Linked DNA regions of Homo sapiens: all the other regions are linked to region 1. The links come from fine-mapping of genetic effects on gene expression. A gene starts in region 1. Each other region holds a variant in brackets. All regions are shown on one strand. Distances are from middle to middle. Region 1 holds the start of SPTBN5 (spectrin beta, non-erythrocytic 5). Region 2 holds the start of EHD4 (EH domain containing 4). Region 3 overlaps SPTBN5 (spectrin beta, non-erythrocytic 5).

Evidence for each region. PIP is the estimated chance that this variant, and not a neighbour inherited with it, causes the effect.
Region 2: its variant is fine-mapped to the expression of SPTBN5 in whole blood (TOPMed, PIP 0.98).
Region 3: its variant is fine-mapped to the expression of SPTBN5 in cerebellar hemisphere (GTEx, PIP 0.98).

What each region holds. Positions count from the first base shown.
Region 1 is chr15:41,892,535-41,895,288 of GRCh38, reverse strand. SPTBN5 (spectrin beta, non-erythrocytic 5) reads left to right here and starts at 1,236. Exons shown (of 68, transcript NM_016642.4): 1 at 1,236-1,390; 2 at 1,743-2,007; 3 at 2,228-2,395. The coding sequence starts at 1,792. LOC105370792 (a long non-coding RNA gene) reads right to left here and starts at 2,512. Exons shown (of 4, transcript NR_135681.1): 1 at 2,211-2,512; 2 at 1-62. RefSeq lists an enhancer at 2,392-2,451.
Region 2 is chr15:41,972,024-41,974,777 of GRCh38, reverse strand. It overlaps EHD4 (EH domain containing 4), which reads left to right and starts at 2,221. Exons shown (of 6, transcript NM_139265.4): 1 at 2,221-2,519. The coding sequence starts at 2,284. PLA2G4E-AS1 (PLA2G4E antisense RNA 1) reads right to left here and starts at 2,015. Exons shown (of 4, transcript NR_120334.1): 1 at 1,780-2,015; 2 at 820-974. RefSeq lists silencers at 2,170-2,299, 2,340-2,409, 2,510-2,754. The variant C/T (reference allele first, on the strand shown) is at 1,390.
Region 3 is chr15:41,858,071-41,860,824 of GRCh38, reverse strand. It overlaps SPTBN5 (spectrin beta, non-erythrocytic 5), which reads left to right. Exons shown (of 68, transcript NM_016642.4): 47 at 67-239; 48 at 1,845-1,935; 49 at 2,077-2,223. Among named protein-coding and RNA genes, the nearest start is that of MIR4310, 7.1 kb to the left of the region's middle. The variant T/C (reference allele first, on the strand shown) is at 1,085.

The sequences.
Region 1 (2,754 bases):
TGGCAAGTCTGGATTTTCCTTCCCAGGCTGTGGGAGGCTTCACAGGCACGAGCAGAGCTGCACTGTGGAAAGGTGCGGGGTGGTGGTGTCCAGGATGCCGAGTTAGGGGGTCCGTGATGAGGACCCCCAGGGGCAGTGAGGGCAGAAGGGGGGGTGCACGGGAGGACCGCCACAGCAACTGCTGCGAGCAAGGGAGGGACGCAGGGTGTCTGGAAGCCAGCCGCTGCAGAAGGGGCCTGGCAGGGAGAGGACAGCAGGAGAGGAAGCGTCTCTCAGACGCAGGAAGCCGCACCCCACCCGAGACCACGGCACCTCTCAGCGTCACCCCTGACTGCCTGCAGTGGGCCCAGGCGGTTCAAGTGTGACTCATCCCTAGCCCAGCTCTCAAGGGCGCGCTGAGCGGCTGTCCTGCTGTGGGCTGTGGCTGCCAGGAGCGCCTCCCTGAGGAGCGGGCTGTCGCTTCAGAGGCTCCAGGGCCGCTGGAAGACACCCACACACACACACCCCAGCCCACACTGCTACCCTGAGTTTAGCCAGAGGCGGGTGAGACCCCCAGAATTAGAACTCGCCTTCACTCTGGCATGTAGTCCACGGCTGCTCGGGGAGGAAGGGATGGGCGCCCACCAGCTCCCTCTGCACCCCTGCCTCCGAGCCCCGGGCCACGGCCAGCTCTGTGGAGCCCAGAGTTAACACCGTGTCTCTAATTTTGGAGGAGACTCCACAGCCCTCGCAGTTCCAGGTCACCCCTTCCTCCAGGGAGCCTACCCTTCAGCCCCGGGCTAGGCAGGCTGCACTCTGGCAGGGCCTGGAAAGCCAAGCCCAGGGTCTGTGAGGCCCTCAGTCTATGGGCTGTTCCCTGGGGGTGAATGAGAAGACCACGGCCCAGGACGCTCCCTCATCCCCTCGCCCTGGGTGCTCACAGAGAGGCCCCAAGAGGGTACAGAGGGCAGTCTCAGATTGGGAAGTGCGTCCACAGGCTTCCCACAGAGGCTCTGCCCTTTGGTACCTCCTACGCAGACTGCAGCACCCCATGCGGTGGCAGGGCCGCTCCATGGGCCTCTGCGTCCTGGGAGCCAGGACCCCCACCTGGAGTTGGAGAAGTTGCTGGCGGGGAAGGGAGGATGATGAAGGAGGACATCATCTGGCAATGGCCCTGGAGCATTCCTGAACCACCCCCTCCCTGTCTGGGCCACGCCCTGTGGCAGGTGGGAGGACAATGCCGCCTGTGTGCCGTCACCCCAGCACGCTGGCTCAAGGGGAGGGCTGTGGTGCAGCCCTGCTCCAGCCTTGGCCTCTCCTGATGTCCCTCTCCCTCCCTCCACAGCCCCTGCTATCTGCCATCTCCATCCGTCCAGCTGGGCCGCCTCTGTGGAACCCAGGCATCACCAAGGTAAGCAGCCCCTGCTATCTACCATCTCCATCCGTCCAGCAGAGCCGTCTCTGTGGGACCCAGGCATCACCAAGGTAAGCAGTTTCCTGTCTTCCTTCCACCTGTCCCAGTCACTGTGGTGGAGGGACCTGGCAGCAGGGGCTCTGAGAAGAAGAATCTGGAAGGTGGGGTGGGGCAAAGGGGGCCCTGGGCCATTCAAGCACAGGGGACCAGAAGCACTGGCCCTTACCTGGCTGGGCTCCAAGCTGCAACCCCCATGAAATGTGAGGACAGTCTGGCAAGGCGGGACCCCAGGCCCCTGGTAGAGGGGCCATCTCCATTCACATCATCCCCTAATCTGCATGCCCTCCAGGTTTAGGGAGCCATCCAGCAGCTCCTCATCCCCAAAGTCTGCAGGGCTGATGGCTGGTCAGCCCCACAGTCCCCGGGAGCTCCTCGGGGCTGCAGGGCACCGCAGCAGGAGGCCCAGCACAGAACTCCGGGTCCCGCCCAGTCCAAGTCTCACCATGGACTCTCAGTACGAGACGGGCCACATTCGCAAGCTACAGGCCCGGCACATGCAGATGCAGGAGAAGACTTTCACCAAGTGGATCAATAACGTCTTCCAGTGCGGCCAGGTGAGTATAGCCAGCTGTGACCCACAGCCCACCCATACCAGGCCCCCAGCTCTGGCCAGTGGGCCTCCGGGGTGAGCTGTGGGGTCATCTGCCTGAGGCCAAGCTGAGGCCAGAGCTCCTTCTTCCAAAGCAGCTGCTCTGGGTCGTACCTCTCAGGTCCCAGGATGGGAGGACAGGTGAGGCTGGGCTGACCCCATACTTACCCCTGTCCCCTCCCCAGGCGGGCATCAAGATCCGGAACCTGTACACAGAGCTGGCTGACGGCATCCACCTCCTGCGGCTGCTGGAGCTCATCTCAGGGGAGGCCCTGCCACCCCCGAGCCGGGGCCGCCTGCGTGTGCACTTCCTGGAGAACAGCAGCCGAGCTCTGGCCTTCCTCAGGGCCAAGGTGGGCCCCAGGGAAAGGGGTCTGGGATGGTGCTGGGGCAGGCAGCTGGGACAGGCTGAACTACTGGGTCACCTTTCCTGCGCCAGGCCACTGGGCAGAACAGAGGAGCTGGGGCCTGAGTACAGGAGGAGTGGCTGGGACACAGAGGAGCAGAAGCCACGCCCTCCTCGCACAGCACCCCTGACTTGGAGAGCACCCAGCTGGCCATGGCAGTAGCAATCCAGGTCCCTACTGGGGTGGAAAATGTCACTGTCTGTCATAAGAGAGACTCACAGGATTCTAGGCCAAAAGAATCTTAGCGTTCTCTTAGGCTTTTCATTTCACAGATGAGGAAACAGAGGCCCTGAATTATTTACCAG
Region 2 (2,754 bases), 79 kb before region 1:
CGGATTGGCTTCTTTCACTTAGTAATAGGCATTTAAGTTTCCTCTGTGTCTTTTTATGGCTTGATAGCTCATTTCTTTTTAGTGCTGAATAAGATTCCATTGTCTGGATGTACCACAGATTATCCTTTCACTTACTGAAGGACATGTTAGTTGCTTCCAATTTTTGGCACTTATGAATAAAGCCACTATGAACATCCATGTACAGGCTTTTCTGTGGATATAAGTTTTCAATTCATTTGGGTAAATACTAAGGAGCTGATTTCTGCATCATATGGTAAGATTGTATTTATATCCGTTTGTTTTTATGTATTCTAAAAAAATACATCGAAGCTTTTACTTTTGTTGTCAAATATGTCAGCCTTTGCTTTCATAATTTCTGTCCTTAATGTTGGTTAGAAAGGCTTTTCCACCGCCAAATTGTATAAATCTCTTGTACCTTCTTCTAGTAGTGCAGTGGTTTCATTTTCTTTTTACATTTCAATCTTTGTTTTATTTTGACACAAGGCAGATGTCTAACTTTATTTTCCCTTGGCTTTCTTTTCACTTCCCTAGTTACATACAATTCCCTCCAACTATGTGACCCACACAACAACTCCAAAGGAGTTTCCATTTTGCTCTTAAGGAAACTAGGGCAGAGAGGTAACTCATCACATTTAAAATCACACAGCCATTAATTTACATAGTCAAGGTTCAAACCCAGATCTTTTGATGCAAAGTCCTGTTCTCTCATACTCCAAGTATGGTCCAGGGATGGGTAGCATTGGCAATACCCGAGAGCCTGTTAGAAATGTAGAGTCATGGGCCCCATCCCATACCTACCGAATCAGAATCCGCATTTCTGTTAGGTTGGAGAAGTACTGCAGGGTGTACTGTTTCCCCAGACTTAGGCCACATCAGAGTCACCTAGGGCATCTGTTGAGCTCCATCTCTCCTCAATATTTTAACTCAGTAGGTCTGGACTGAAGACCAGGAATCTGCATTTTAACAAGCATCCCAGCTCATAAATGCATATATGCAGGTGGCCCCATGGATCACACTTGAGAAATGCTCTAAAACAACTAAGAAATATTCCTAAGCTACAATCAAGGACACAAAAGGTGATTATTTCCCCCAATCTCAACTTAGATAAGTGAGTATCCTTTTAACCTAGAAAAGAAACAGGCCAGGGGCGGTGGCTCACGCCTATAATCCCAATACTTTGGGAGGCCAAGGCAGGCGGATCATCTGAGGTCAGGAGTTCAAGACCAGCCTTACCAATATGGTGAAACCCCATCTCTACTAAAAATACAAAAATTAGCTGGGCATGGTGGTGAGCGCCTGTAGTCCCAGCTACTCAGGAGGCTGAGACAGGAAAATTGCTTGAACCCGGGAAGCGGAGGTTGCAGTGAG[C/T]CGAGATCGTGCCACTGCACTCCAGCCTGGGCGACAGAGCGAGACTCCGTCTCAGAAAACAACAACAACAACAAAAAACAGCTAGGAGGTGACAATGACTCACATGTCAATATGTGGAAATAAAGTTGTAATAATGAGGATAATGTAATAATGAGAGTAATGACTAAATTTTCGGCTTTACAGAAAAACACATAAAGAAAACTAAGGGGAAAAAGCCTTTAGCTGATCCAGAATTTAGTGAGGGCAATGTGGAGAAGTAGGAGAAACGGCTACTCAAATAGATTCCAGTCCACTTCCCCTCAAGATTGTGTCAATTATGCCCGTGAGCCTGGGTCTCTTGGCCTGTAAAACGGAGTCATAACCACCCGCCCCCGGGAAGACAGAACCTGCCTGTCCACTTTCTGAACTTTTCATCCCCAGTATCGACGTCCAGAGGCCTGAATGAGTAAACGTTCCAGGAGATGGAGCAGCCTCCGGAGGCTCGCTTTGGGCAGCTCAGATTTACCCGGAAGCCGATGCCACCTGGCCAGAGGTGAGGCACCGGCAACCAGAAGGGGGCCCTGAGCATGACCGGTCAGTGCCACCCGGCCGGGAAGACACCATCTCCCCGCCCAGTCCTCTAGAATGACTCCGTCATCAATAATTCATTAAGAACCTCCTCTCAATTGGCTGACGCCTTCAGCCCTCTCTGGCAGAGATCCAATCAGGAAGGACCTGAGAGAGCTCGTCTGAATAGTGGGCGAGCGCGCGTGACGTAGCGGCCGAAGACTGGCTGTGGCAGCACAAGGCGGGGCCCTCCTCGGGCGGCGGCCAGCGCGGCCGGGGCGGCTCAGTGCGAGCCGGGGAGAGTCGAACCCGGAGCAGGGTCCCATCCGAGCGTGGACTGGCGGCAGGATGTTCAGCTGGATGGGGCGGCAGGCGGGCGGGCGCGAACGCGCTGGCGGCGCGGACGCGGTGCAGACGGTGACGGGCGGGCTGCGCTCGCTCTACCTGCGCAAGGTGCTGCCGCTGGAGGAGGCGTACCGCTTCCACGAGTTCCACTCGCCTGCGCTGGAGGACGCCGACTTCGAGAACAAGCCCATGATCCTGCTGGTGGGCCAGTACAGCACCGGCAAGACCACCTTCATCAGGTACCGTCACCGCCCCTCGCCCGGCTCCCGCCCCGCTCCGCCCTCCCCACGTGTGCGCCGCAGTCGGCCGCCTCCCGCCGCTGCCCCTCCCGGCCGGCGCGACCTCGGGGACCCCTCCCGGAGCTCGGCGCCCGGTGCCCTCGGCCCCGCCCCGGCTGGCCAGCCCCGCGCGCTGGAGGGTCCCGCGAACCCGCGCCCTGCGCACTCCGAGCCCTCCTTCCTTGCGGTTCGGAAG
Region 3 (2,754 bases), 34 kb after region 1:
AAGGCAGGTAGCCTGGGATGGGAGGGGGAGGCTCATGGACAGTATTGGGTTCCCCACTCCCACCAGGACCCCTTGGCCCCCATGGAGCCCCTTCTGTGGAAGCACAAGATGCTGGAGTGGGACCTGGAGGTGCAGGCGGGAAAGATCAGTGCTCTGGAGGCCACGGCCCGCGGCCTGCACCAGGGTGGGCACCCCGAGGCCCAGAGTGCCCTGGGCAGGTGCCAGGCCATGCTTCTGAGGTAGTGGTGGCTCTGGGGTGAGGGGTGCTGTGGGCAGGCTGGCACAGGCATCTGGCATCCCGGTTCTTCCCTTCCCACCCTTCCACTACTTGGCCCAGGCTCACCAGCCTTGTCCAAGGACTGAGGTCAGATGCCGGGGGTCCCCACCACCCCTGGCCCTGCAATGTGTCTGCCTGTTATGGACATCAAACACCACGTGGAAAATCCCACTTCCTTCTTCATTCAGTTGAGATCAAAGGGAGTTTAAAGAGAGGCTTATGCTAGGAGACCAAGAGGAAATCATCTCACGAAACGGAAGGTCGCAGGGCACAGAGGTCAAGCATCGGCCTTCCAGGGTCACAGTCCTGAGTCCCTGTGCTGCCCACTAATGGCAGGACTCAGACAAGTTCCTCCTCTCGGCAGCTGAGCCTCACATCCTGGGCTTTAACGGCTGTGATGAGGACGAAAGCACTGTGCTGGCCCCACAGGCAGGCTAGCAGAAGTCTTAGTTCATCTAACTGAAGTTCAGACACAGATGCATGTGACCTGCATGGCCCATGAGACCCCAGCTCTGCAGTTCTTTTTCCCTGTAAAAGCTCATCAGGTTTGGCTGCTTCATGCAGCTCCTCAGACTTTTAGATCAAGGCAGATACGGTCAAAAGCCAGATCCCAGACTGGTGGGGGCTTTTGTCCTTCTCAGAGAGCCGATCAGAGAGCCAACCAGCACCCACAAATGCCATGGCTCCTTGTGCTGGTGTCCTGGCAGTGGTCGCGGCCACCCCCTCTCCATTCTTGCAGGTGGACCACACCTGGGTACCTGTGGAGGTCTTTGAATTAACAGAATGCAAACTTTGCTTTGCTGGTCT[T/C]TGTCACCACCCCCTACCCCAGTCACCTTAGGTGGTTCCTGGCAGGCTCAGCTTCCCCCAGCACAGTGCCACCCTGACTTCTAGCCCCTGGCTTCTGCCCTCCTGCAGGAGGCAGATCGTCCCCCTGTGCTTGTGTCTGCCCCAGTTGCCTCCTCTCATAAGGTCACACTGGATTAGGACCCACCCATATGACCTCATTTTCACTTAATTACCTCTTTTAAAGACGCTGTCTCCAAAAACACTTCTGGAGTTAGGCCTTCAACATAAGAACTCAGTGGTACAGGCTGGGTGCAGTAGTTCACGCCTGTAAACCCAGCACTTTGGGAGGCCGAGGTAGGTGGATCATTTGAGGTCAGGAGTTCAAGACCAGTCTGGCCAACATGGGGAAACCCTGCCTCTACTAAAAATACAAAATTTAGCTGGGCCTGGAGGTGTGAGCCTATAGTCCTAGCTACTCGGGAGGCTGAGGCAGAAGAATTGCTTGAACCCGGGAGGTGGAGGTTGCAGTGAGCCGAGATTGTGCCACTGCACTCCAGCCTGGGTGACAGAGTGAGACTCTGTCTCAAAAACAAAAACAAACTTGGGGGTACAAAATCCGGCGCATAACAGACACAAATACAGAGGGGGAGTGCAATGTACCTTTATTCCAAAGGAAACTCCAGACTCAGAGTATATTCATACCCGAGAAAGCCTAGGCTGGACGGGCACCCCACCTGGCCCCGGGGGTGGCTCCAGGCCCATGAGCCTCTCCTCCTGGCAGGAAGGAGGCGCTCTTCAGGCAAGCCGGGACCCGCCGCCATCGCCTGGAGGAGCTCCGGCAGCTGCAGGCCTTCCTGCAGGACTCCCAGGAGGTTCGCCTCGCTTGGAGAGGGAGGCGGTCATGGTGGGGAAGGAGTCGACCCAGGGAAAGGCCACCCTTCCTCTGGGGTATCCCAGAGGTCAGGGGAAGGGGAAAGCCCTGGACAGCAGGCCTGTCCTCCCCATGTGCCCAGGTGGCTGCGTGGCTGAGGGAGAAGAACCTGGTGGCCTTGGAGGAGGGTTTGCTGGACACAGCCATGCTGCCAGCACAGTTACAGAAGCAGCAGAATTTCCAGGCGGAGCTGGACGCGAGCATGCACCAACAGCAGGAGCTGCAGCGGGTGAGGCCCTGCAGGCAGGAGGGTGGTGGGACAGCTCTCCAGGCAGAACACAGGACAGTGCCCCAGAGCTGGTGCTGAACCACAGTAACGGTGGCCAGCGTTATCCAGTACTTTCTGCATGCAGGCACCTGGCTAAGCGGTTGTTTAGGCAGAAGTGTAGTGAGAAGAAGTTGCTTTCCGGCGGGCAGGGGGGGCACCCTCTCCAAAAATGGCAGCTTTTCATTAATTTTAAAGATAACATTTTGATGTGAACAGGACATAGCCACCAGTCCTGTGAGCGAAGGAGTCAAAACATAGCCACTTTGAGACAGGGTCTTGCTCTGTCACCCAGGCTGGAGTGCAGTGGCAAGATCTCAGCTCACTGCAACCTCCGCCTCCCAGGCTCAAGTGATCTTCCCAGCTCAGCCTCCCAAGTAGCTGGGATCACAGGCCCACACCACTACATCCAGCTACTTTTTTGTATTTTTGGTAGAGATGGGGTTTTGCCATGTTGTCCAGGCTGGTGTTAAACTCCTGAGCTCAGGCGATCCA